2 linked regions of the Homo sapiens genome follow. The protein of the gene in region 1 purifies or fractionates together with the protein of each later gene. This does not show direct contact. Each region holds a gene or a part of one and is shown in the gene's direction. Other genes may lie near its edges.

What was found.
Region 2: the proteins of THBS2 (region 1) and EDEM2 purify together in Homo sapiens (affinity purification with mass spectrometry; 2 studies listed by BioGRID and IntAct, with this or other methods). This does not show direct contact.

Annotation. Positions count from the first base shown.
Region 1 is NC_000006.12:169,250,904-169,255,428, reverse strand, and holds the start of THBS2 (thrombospondin-2 isoform 1 precursor), read left to right. Parts: upstream 1-1,582; 5' UTR 1,583-1,705; intron 1,706-4,525. UniProt on the Homo sapiens protein: Adhesive glycoprotein that mediates cell-to-cell and cell-to-matrix interactions. Ligand for CD36 mediating antiangiogenic properties.
Region 2 is NC_000020.11:35,140,600-35,144,412, reverse strand, and holds part of EDEM2 (ER degradation-enhancing alpha-mannosidase-like protein 2 isoform 1 precursor), read left to right. Parts: intron 1-1,934; coding exon 1,935-2,040; intron 2,041-3,813. Other genes in the region: MMP24-AS1-EDEM2 (ER degradation-enhancing alpha-mannosidase-like protein 2), read left to right, coding at 1,935-2,040. UniProt on the Homo sapiens protein: Involved in the endoplasmic reticulum-associated degradation (ERAD) pathway that targets misfolded glycoproteins for degradation in an N-glycan-dependent manner.

The DNA of each region.
Region 1 (4,525 bases):
GAAAGCTCCTTCCCTCTCCCACACCCGCTCGCATATCCTCCCTGAAGACAGAGGCCAGAAAGTGAGGCTTGCTCTTCATGGTGCCTGCCGACCTCTGCAGCGCTGGACCCCTGTGGGGGAATGCCAGGAGGCTTAAGAGACACTCCCCTGCCACAGACACAGTAAGGGTTGTGTCCACAGAAATTCGCTTTAATGTTCTCTAACTAGGACTTGACGGATCCATGGCCAGGCTGACAACTCCACACAAACGTGAAGGAACCTGACAGGCAGGTGCCGACATGAAGCAGGTGCAGGTGGCTCCGGGCAAAGCAGCAGCTCCCCAGTCACCATCCACCCCACCTGGGGAAGTAGCACCTCCCCCATCCAAGGTCCACCCCAACCCAGGAGAAGCAGCAGCTCCCCTGTCTGCCATTAACCCTGACCTGGGAGAAACAACACATCCCCAGCCACCTTGCACACTGACCTGGGAGAAACAGCCTCTCCACCATCCACCTTTCACACTGGCCTGGGAGAAGTGGCACCTCCCCCATCCACTGTCCAGCCCAACTTGGGAGAAGCAGCCCCTCCCCCATGTACCATCAACCCCCACCTTAGAGCAGCAGCTTCCCCTTTCCACTGTATACCCTGACCTGGGAGAAGCAGCCCCTCCGCATCCATCGTCCACCCTGACCTCTGAGAAGCGGTGCCCCCCACCCCCATGCAGAGTGCACCCTGATTGCGGGTGATGCCTGAGGTGTGGGAGGGGCGGGGGTTAGCTGCTGCCACTGCTTCTCGTTCTCTCGAGTCCTTGCTCTGTGCCTGCACGTCAGGTTGTTCCTGTGATGGGGCCACGTGCAAGTGTGCACCAAGGGGACTTGGCCGGGTACTGTACGTCCACTGGGACACACCCTTCTACGGGTATTGCACGTCCACTGGGAGACGTCCTTCTAGGGGATCCTCACTGAGCAAATGAAGCAGAATTTGGGTAAAAATGAATTTTCCCAAAGCTGCAGTACAGCTTTTCAGTCCTCTAACTGCCTGAGATAAATGTTGGCAACTTCCTTTTATATTAAATTTCATTTTTGTCACATAATACACTTGATTATTGACCATAATAACTTTATTAATATACAGACTGATTATTGATACTCACCGATGTATTTCATGTGTTATTGAGAGTCACTCATTTGGTTTAGAAAGACCAATATCACATTGAGTAATTCGAAACATATTTAAGGCATAGAACTTGCATTTTTTTCTCTTAAGCAAAATGAGGAGTTCTAGCCAATCTTGCTAGTGTTATTTATAGCATCTTATTTCCTGAGAGAAGACAGGAAAAGTGAGTCCCTGCCTTCCCTCTCTCCGTCTGGCTCCTCCCAGGCCTGTCTGGCAGGGGCCGGGGTGCAGGAGGAGGAGACGGCATCCAGTACAGAGGGGCTGGACTTGGACCCCTGCAGCAGGTACTCGGAGCAAATGGTGAGATCAGAAGGGGGATGATGTCATTCCTTCGAAGGAATGAATTAAACGTGCTTCCTCGTGTGTCTGATTGACAGCCCTGCACAGGAGAAGCGGCATATAAAGCCGCGCTGCCCGGGAGCCGCTCGGCCACGTCCACCGGAGCATCCTGCACTGCAGGGCCGGTCTCTCGCTCCAGCAGAGCCTGCGCCTTTCTGACTCGGTCCGGAACACTGAAACCAGTCATCACTGCATCTTTTTGGCAAACCAGGTACGATTATTTCTTAAACTCAATCAATTATTTAATGGTGCTCTAATTTTAAGAAATTAGAGTTCTCGAACTCTAAGAAGCGGAGAAGAAAAAGGAGCAATTTCGATTCTTAACTTAAGGTGGGTGGTGTATCTATTAACACTAAATGGCAAGTGTTTCTTCACGTGGTGTTTCTACTGCCCGCTTGAAGAGCAAGGCACGTGGCCGCTCCTCAGCTTTTCCTCCGTGGCTGTGCTTTCACCAGCCGGGCACCCCTTCCTCTCTGAGGGTTGTGGCTGCTGCTATTTCAATGTATATACCTGCCTGGGAACCCGGGTAAACGCTTTATGTTTTCAGTTTCCGAAGAAGAAGATTCCACATGAGAGTTTGTTATTGAGGAGAGAATTAGAAACAACTCCCGGAATATCTGAAAAGTAACTGGAGATTAGAGAGAGACTCTGATTGTTAACATCATTATTAGTAGATTAGAGAGAGACTCTGATCGTTAACATTATTAGTAGATTAAAGAGAGACTCTGATTGTTAACATTATTAGTAGATTAAAGAGAGACTCTGATTGTTAACATTATTAGCAGCTGAAAAGTGGTTTTGAACATAACTAGAGAGTATTTGTGGTAAGTCTATGGAAAATCCTGTGACTGCCGGGACACACAGCGACTTTTAACAGTCTTGGGGCAGTTTGCATATGAAAAGCGAGCTGGCAGGTTGCCTGGCTACCACTTAAGGAAGGTGGGTTTGGCTGCCCAGGACTGGGAGCTGAGCACCCAGGAGTCTGGTGTTTAATCAGACTGCTGTTGGTGGTGGACGGCCGGTAAACAATTAGCTCTCTGCAAAGCTATCTTTTACTTTGATTGTTCATACGAAAAGAGTTTTAAAAGACCTTTGCAAATTCAAACTACATTCTGCTGCAGACAGGCACCGAAATCTTTCTTTTGGAAAAACACAAGCATAAACGTGGATGTGTGGCGTGCAGAGGCTGGGGCAGGGGTGAGCGGCACTGGCTCATCCGTGGCTCCATCCATGCATGCCCGGTGTCCCTGGATGGGCTGAGGCCAGGTAGCCTGGCTGCTCATCCTTCCTGTGGGATGGAGCCTCACTGTCCTTTGACAATCCGCAGCAGGGGATGCTTTGTTAGCCTCCTGCTCTTGTAAGAATCTACCTCAAGGCAGAGACAGTAGGATCTGGTTTCGTCAAAGGAGTTTGATTTAGTTTTTCTAACCTGTCCTTATGAAGCTGGGCATCCAGAACTTTCGCATTTACCATCCTGTTCTTGGCTGGCCTCTGCAGGGCCAGCCCCACACAGCTGTCCTTAGGGGACTGCGACGTACCCGGCAGTGTGGGCTGATGAGGTGGGGAGGTGGGAAGAGCCTGCCAAGGCTGTACCTGAGCTGTGTATTCTAACACCGTTCTGTGGTGCTTACTGCATGCAGGTACTGTTCTAAGCTCATGGCCAAGTGTTCGCTCCTGTCATTAAACCCTCTTAAGAGCTCCATAGAAAGGCCCTATCAGCACCACCATTATTACTGCAGCTGCCTCGGGCAGTTAGAGTAGAAAGCGCCCCAGACCCAGAGGCACATTCTGCTCCGGTAACCCATGCCTGTGGCTCGCTGGGCTAAGTCAGCCCCTGGTGAAGTTTCATTTGCCGAATTCATCTCTCATGACAACCCGATGAGGTGGGCATTTTACATGACGCTACGTTTCATTCTACGGATGAGGAAACTGAGACAGAGAAGTTAAGTAAGTTTCCCTAGGTTGCACAGCTGGTGCTCAGCATTGCTCAGCCTGGTGCTGACTCCGGCCGCAGGCCGTGCTGCTTCCGGAGCCAGGACAGATGAAACAATCACCAAGGACCCCTGGGGCGGCACTGGGGGGAGCAGATGGTTTGGGGGGGGGGTCCCAGCAGCAGATGGGTGGGGGGTCTGCAGGTGCTGCCAAGCATTTCTCTTCTTCTGAGGAATGTTTCTCTATTCCTGGAAGGTGAGGATTTCCAGGTTACCAAATGTTGTTTCTGGAGAGGGAGAGTCCTTGGATTAACAATGAGAAGTTAACGGCCTTTGATATTCTAAATATGGGAAGAATTGGGGTCTCAGTCTTCCCTTCAACCTAGAGCAGGGTGTGACCAATTGCTGGAAGGGACCTGGGGAGCCCTGGGACCCTCAGGCTCATGCTCGCCCGGAAGAGGAGAAGCTGAGATCCACAGGGTTAATCGCCCAGCCGGGCTTTGGACCACATCTCCTGACTTCGGGGCCAGCCTCCACTGAGCTGTGCCAACTTAAAATCCCCAAGAATGGAAAAACAGGCCTGCAGGAAAATAAAGAGGCAGGGTCAAAATGATGGCTAAGTCAAGTGTTCTGTTGTTTTGTAAGTATAATTCACCAAATTAAGTTTATTTGTAACTTTTTTTTACAGTTGATATTCATTCTATTTAATTAGGTTATGCATAACTGTTTTTTGCTGGATATTTACACAAAATGCGTTCACAGATTATTTTTGTCAGGCTGGATATTTTTCTAAATTCAAACTTTCTACATCTAAGTCCTGTCTACGAGTCGTATGAACAGAATTACTCCAGGCAAGCGCTGAACTTGCCCATCTTCCATTTGCTCATCTGTAAAATGAGGACAATTAGAGCAGCACATACCTCCCAGGCTATTATGAAGATGAAATAATAGGAATATTTAGAACGTGATGTGCAGTGCTTGCCGGCAAATGCTAGCTCAACAAATCTTATAGTTAGAAGAATCCTGCTTGAAGAGTAAATTTCCTCCTTCGCTCTCAGTTTGCCACAAATCCAGTTGGTGCTGAGTTTTATATGCAAACT
Region 2 (3,813 bases), on another chromosome or scaffold:
GCAGTGAGCCGAGATTGCACCATTGCACTCCAGCCTGGGTGACAAGAGTGAAACTTCATCTCAAAAAAAATTATAAAGAAATAATATCAGTGACTAGTTAGTATGTTTCTGTAGGGCTTAGTACAGACATGTATTAATTCTTCTAACAACTTCTTGAGGTTAGTACCTTTACTCCTTCTTATCGTTAAGAAACCTGATGCTTAGGGATGGGCACAGTGGCTCACGCCTGTAATCCCAGCACTTTGGGAGGCCAAGGCGGCAGGACTGCTTGAGCACAGGAGTTCAAGACCAGCCTGGGCAATATGGTGAAACCCCGTCTCTACCAAAAATATAAAAAATTAGGCATGATGGCACATGTCTGTGGCTCCATTTGTTAGGGAGGAGGGTGAGGTAGGAGGATTGTTTGAGTCAGGGAGGCAGAGGTTGCAGTGAGCCGAGATCGCACCACTGCACTCTGGTCTGGGTAACAGAGTAAAACCCTGTCTCACACAAACAAAAAAAAGATATAAAAGAAACCTGATGCTTAGAAAGGTAAAAAGGGCCAGGTGTGGTGGCTCATGCCTGTAATCCCAGCACTTTGGGAGGCCAACATTGCTCAAGTCCCAGAGTTCGAGGCTGTGATGAGCTATGATCACACCACTGCACTCCAACCTGTGTAACAGAGCAAGACCCTGTCTCAAAAAAAAGACTTGGACTGGTTCAGGTCAAGTACCCACTCCACAGCTAGAGGGATGGGATCAGCCTCTCCCAAACCACAGGAGTGACTGCCGGGGAAGAGTGATTCCTCGAGGGTAAATTGAGATGTTACTATCAAAAGAAGAGAGATTGAGATTGCATTTGGCTAACGGTTTAAATAAAGAGGGTTTATTTTCTCAAGTAAAAGAAAGTCTAGAGGTAATTTCTAGCATTGGGTCAGCTACGCAACTGTGTCATTAGAGACCAGCCTCTTTGTAGCTTTGCATTCTAGTATCGTTAGTGTTTTGGCTTTTATTCTAATGCTTAGTACGTCATGGTCTCACATAGCTGCCATCACTTCAGAAATCGAGTCTGAGTTCAAGGCAGAAAGAGAGAGACTAAAAGCCATGTTAGCTGTGTTTGTCCCTTGGTATTAAGAAAACAGAAGCCTTCCCAGAAGTGCCCCCAGTAGACCTCTCAAGGGTCAGAATTGACTGGGTAACACAATCAACTGCAGCAGCAAAGGAGGCCGAGAAAGCTTCTGGATTTCCAACCTCTGGTGGGAGGCCATGAGGTAAAGAGGGTAGGAATGAATTTGTTTTGGGCCAACCAACCTGTTCTGTTTTCCACAAGGTTGAAGGTGACAACTGGTATCTACTGCAAATGTCAAACTAAGACTTTTGGCCAGGTGCGGTCGCTCACACCTGTAATCCCAGCACTTTGGGAGGCCAAGGCGGGTGGATCATGAGGTCAGGAGTTTGAGACCAGCCTGATCAACATGGTGAAACCCCGTCTCTACTAAAAATACAAAAATTAGCCGGGCATGGTGGTGCATAATCCCAGCTACTCGGGGCTGAGGCAGGAGAATCGCTTGAACCCAGGAGGCGGAGTTTGAAGTGAGCCAAGATCACGCCACTGCACTCTACCCTGGGCAGCAGAGCGAGACTCTGTCTCAAAAAAACGAAACAAAAAACCTAAGACTTCTATGCGTAGTTTGCGTTCTTTATATTGTGTCCATTTAAATGACAACATCGTGACTCTTAATTGGGACCTAGGAATTTACTTAACCAGTCTCTTGGTATGAAGTCTCTAGATGATTTCTAGCTCTCAGTGTTTTCTTCTGCTGTCACCAATCCTAGGACAGAAACTGGAGGTCTTAAGTGGAATTAGTGAGGGCCACATCAACATAGGATCCCAGACTCTGAATCTGCCTCCATGCATGTAAGAGCCTCATTGTCAGGTCTCTTTTTTATTTCCAGATTTTGGGGAATGTCTCAGAATTCCAAAGAGTGGTTGAAGTGCTCCAGGACAGCGTGGACTTTGATATTGATGTGAACGCCTCTGTGTTTGAAACAAACATTCGAGGTAAGGGCTGCTCTCTAGGACCTTTAAAAGAAAAAAGAGTGTGAAGTTGCCTCTGTAAACCAAGAAGTGGTAAATAGGATTTTAAGGACTGACCATGCCAGGACCCTTGGCCAAAACCTCTGACCGACAGAGCTCTTCTTCCCTCCTGGAGGGTGAGGTGGGGAAGTCTCAGGATTTCCCCATCAGTTTCAGATATGAAAGTGAGCAGGAGACTAAGAGACTGGAAAGAAATACACCAGATTACTCACCTCTTTAATATGTATTTGATACTAGGCATACAGCTATGAACAAGAAAGATATGATCCTTGCCTTCTTGGAACTTATTGTCTGTCCAATCCAATTTTCTGCAGTGATGGAAATGTCTTATAGCTGTGTTTTGTCCAGTATGGTAGCCACGAACCACATGAGCTATTGAGCATTTGAAATGTATCTACTACAACTATGGAATTGAATTTTTAATTTCATTTAATTTTAATGATATTAAATTTAAGTAGTCACATGTAGTTAGTGATTATTGTATTGGACAGTGCAAATCTACAGCATTAATCTTCCAAACTTGGCAGCCCATAGGAACCACTCCCAAGTGGTTAAAAAATTCAGATGTTGAGACTCCACCCTAAACCTAATGAATTGGAATCTCTGTGTTGGGTCCTAGAATCAGTATTTTTAGCAGACTTCCAGTGATTCTTGTGAAGCCAGCACAGCCCTTATTTGCATCGAACCTCTAGACCACTTAACAGCTGTCACCTCTGGATGGCAGAGTTCTATTTTTCCCCATTATTTTGTATGTTTTCTGCAATGAAACTTATATTCCAGACATATGATCCATAAAAGATTAAAAAAGAGAAGAGAGCAGAGGGACAACATGGTCTAAAATCCTGGTTTAGGAATCCGGCCTGAGTTTGAGGCTGTACTTGCTGCTATGTCTCCCAGCTTCTGAGCCCAGTTTGTCATCTGTAAATGAAGGTCATTCTTATACCTTTATTTCTGATAGGAATATAAGTGATACCAGCTTTCTTTTGGTTGACATTTTCCCATGTATCTTTTTCTATCCTTTCCATCTTTCTGTAGTTTTATGATTAGATACATCTTTTGCAAATAGTGTATTATATTTTGTTTATCCATTCTGACAATCTTTAACTGGCACATTTAATCCATTTACATTTACTGTAATTACTGATATATTTGCACTCATTTCTACAGTATTGTGCTCTCTGTGCCGTCTTCTTTTTTTTTTTTTTTTTTTTTTTTTTGAGGCGGAGTCTCACTCTGTCGCCCAGGCGGGAGTGTAGTGGTGCAATCTTGGCTTACTGCAACCTCTGCCTCCCGGGTTCAGGCGATTCTCCTGTCTCAGCCTCCTATGTAGCTGGGATTGCAGGTGCCTGCCACCGTGCCCTGCTAATTTTTGTATTTTTAGTAGAGATGGGGTTTCACCATGTTGGCCAGGCTAGTCTCGAACTCCTGACCTCAGGTGATCCGCCCCCCATCAGCCTCCCAAAGTGCTGGGATTATAGGTGTGAGCCACTGCACCTGGCCCTGTGCCATCTTCTTTATGTTCCTTTATTCTGTCCTTTTTCATGCCTTCTTTAGATTGTTTTCCCCCCATTCCATTTTCCTCTTACTAATATGGAAATTATGCACAATATCTAGCTTTTTACATAGTTTTCCAAGCAAATTTAACAAACATAACTTATCAAAGTCTAAATTTAATGAAAATCTTTGTTCTCCTCCTGAATAATGCAAAACCTGACTTAGAGAACATCCTGACCTATA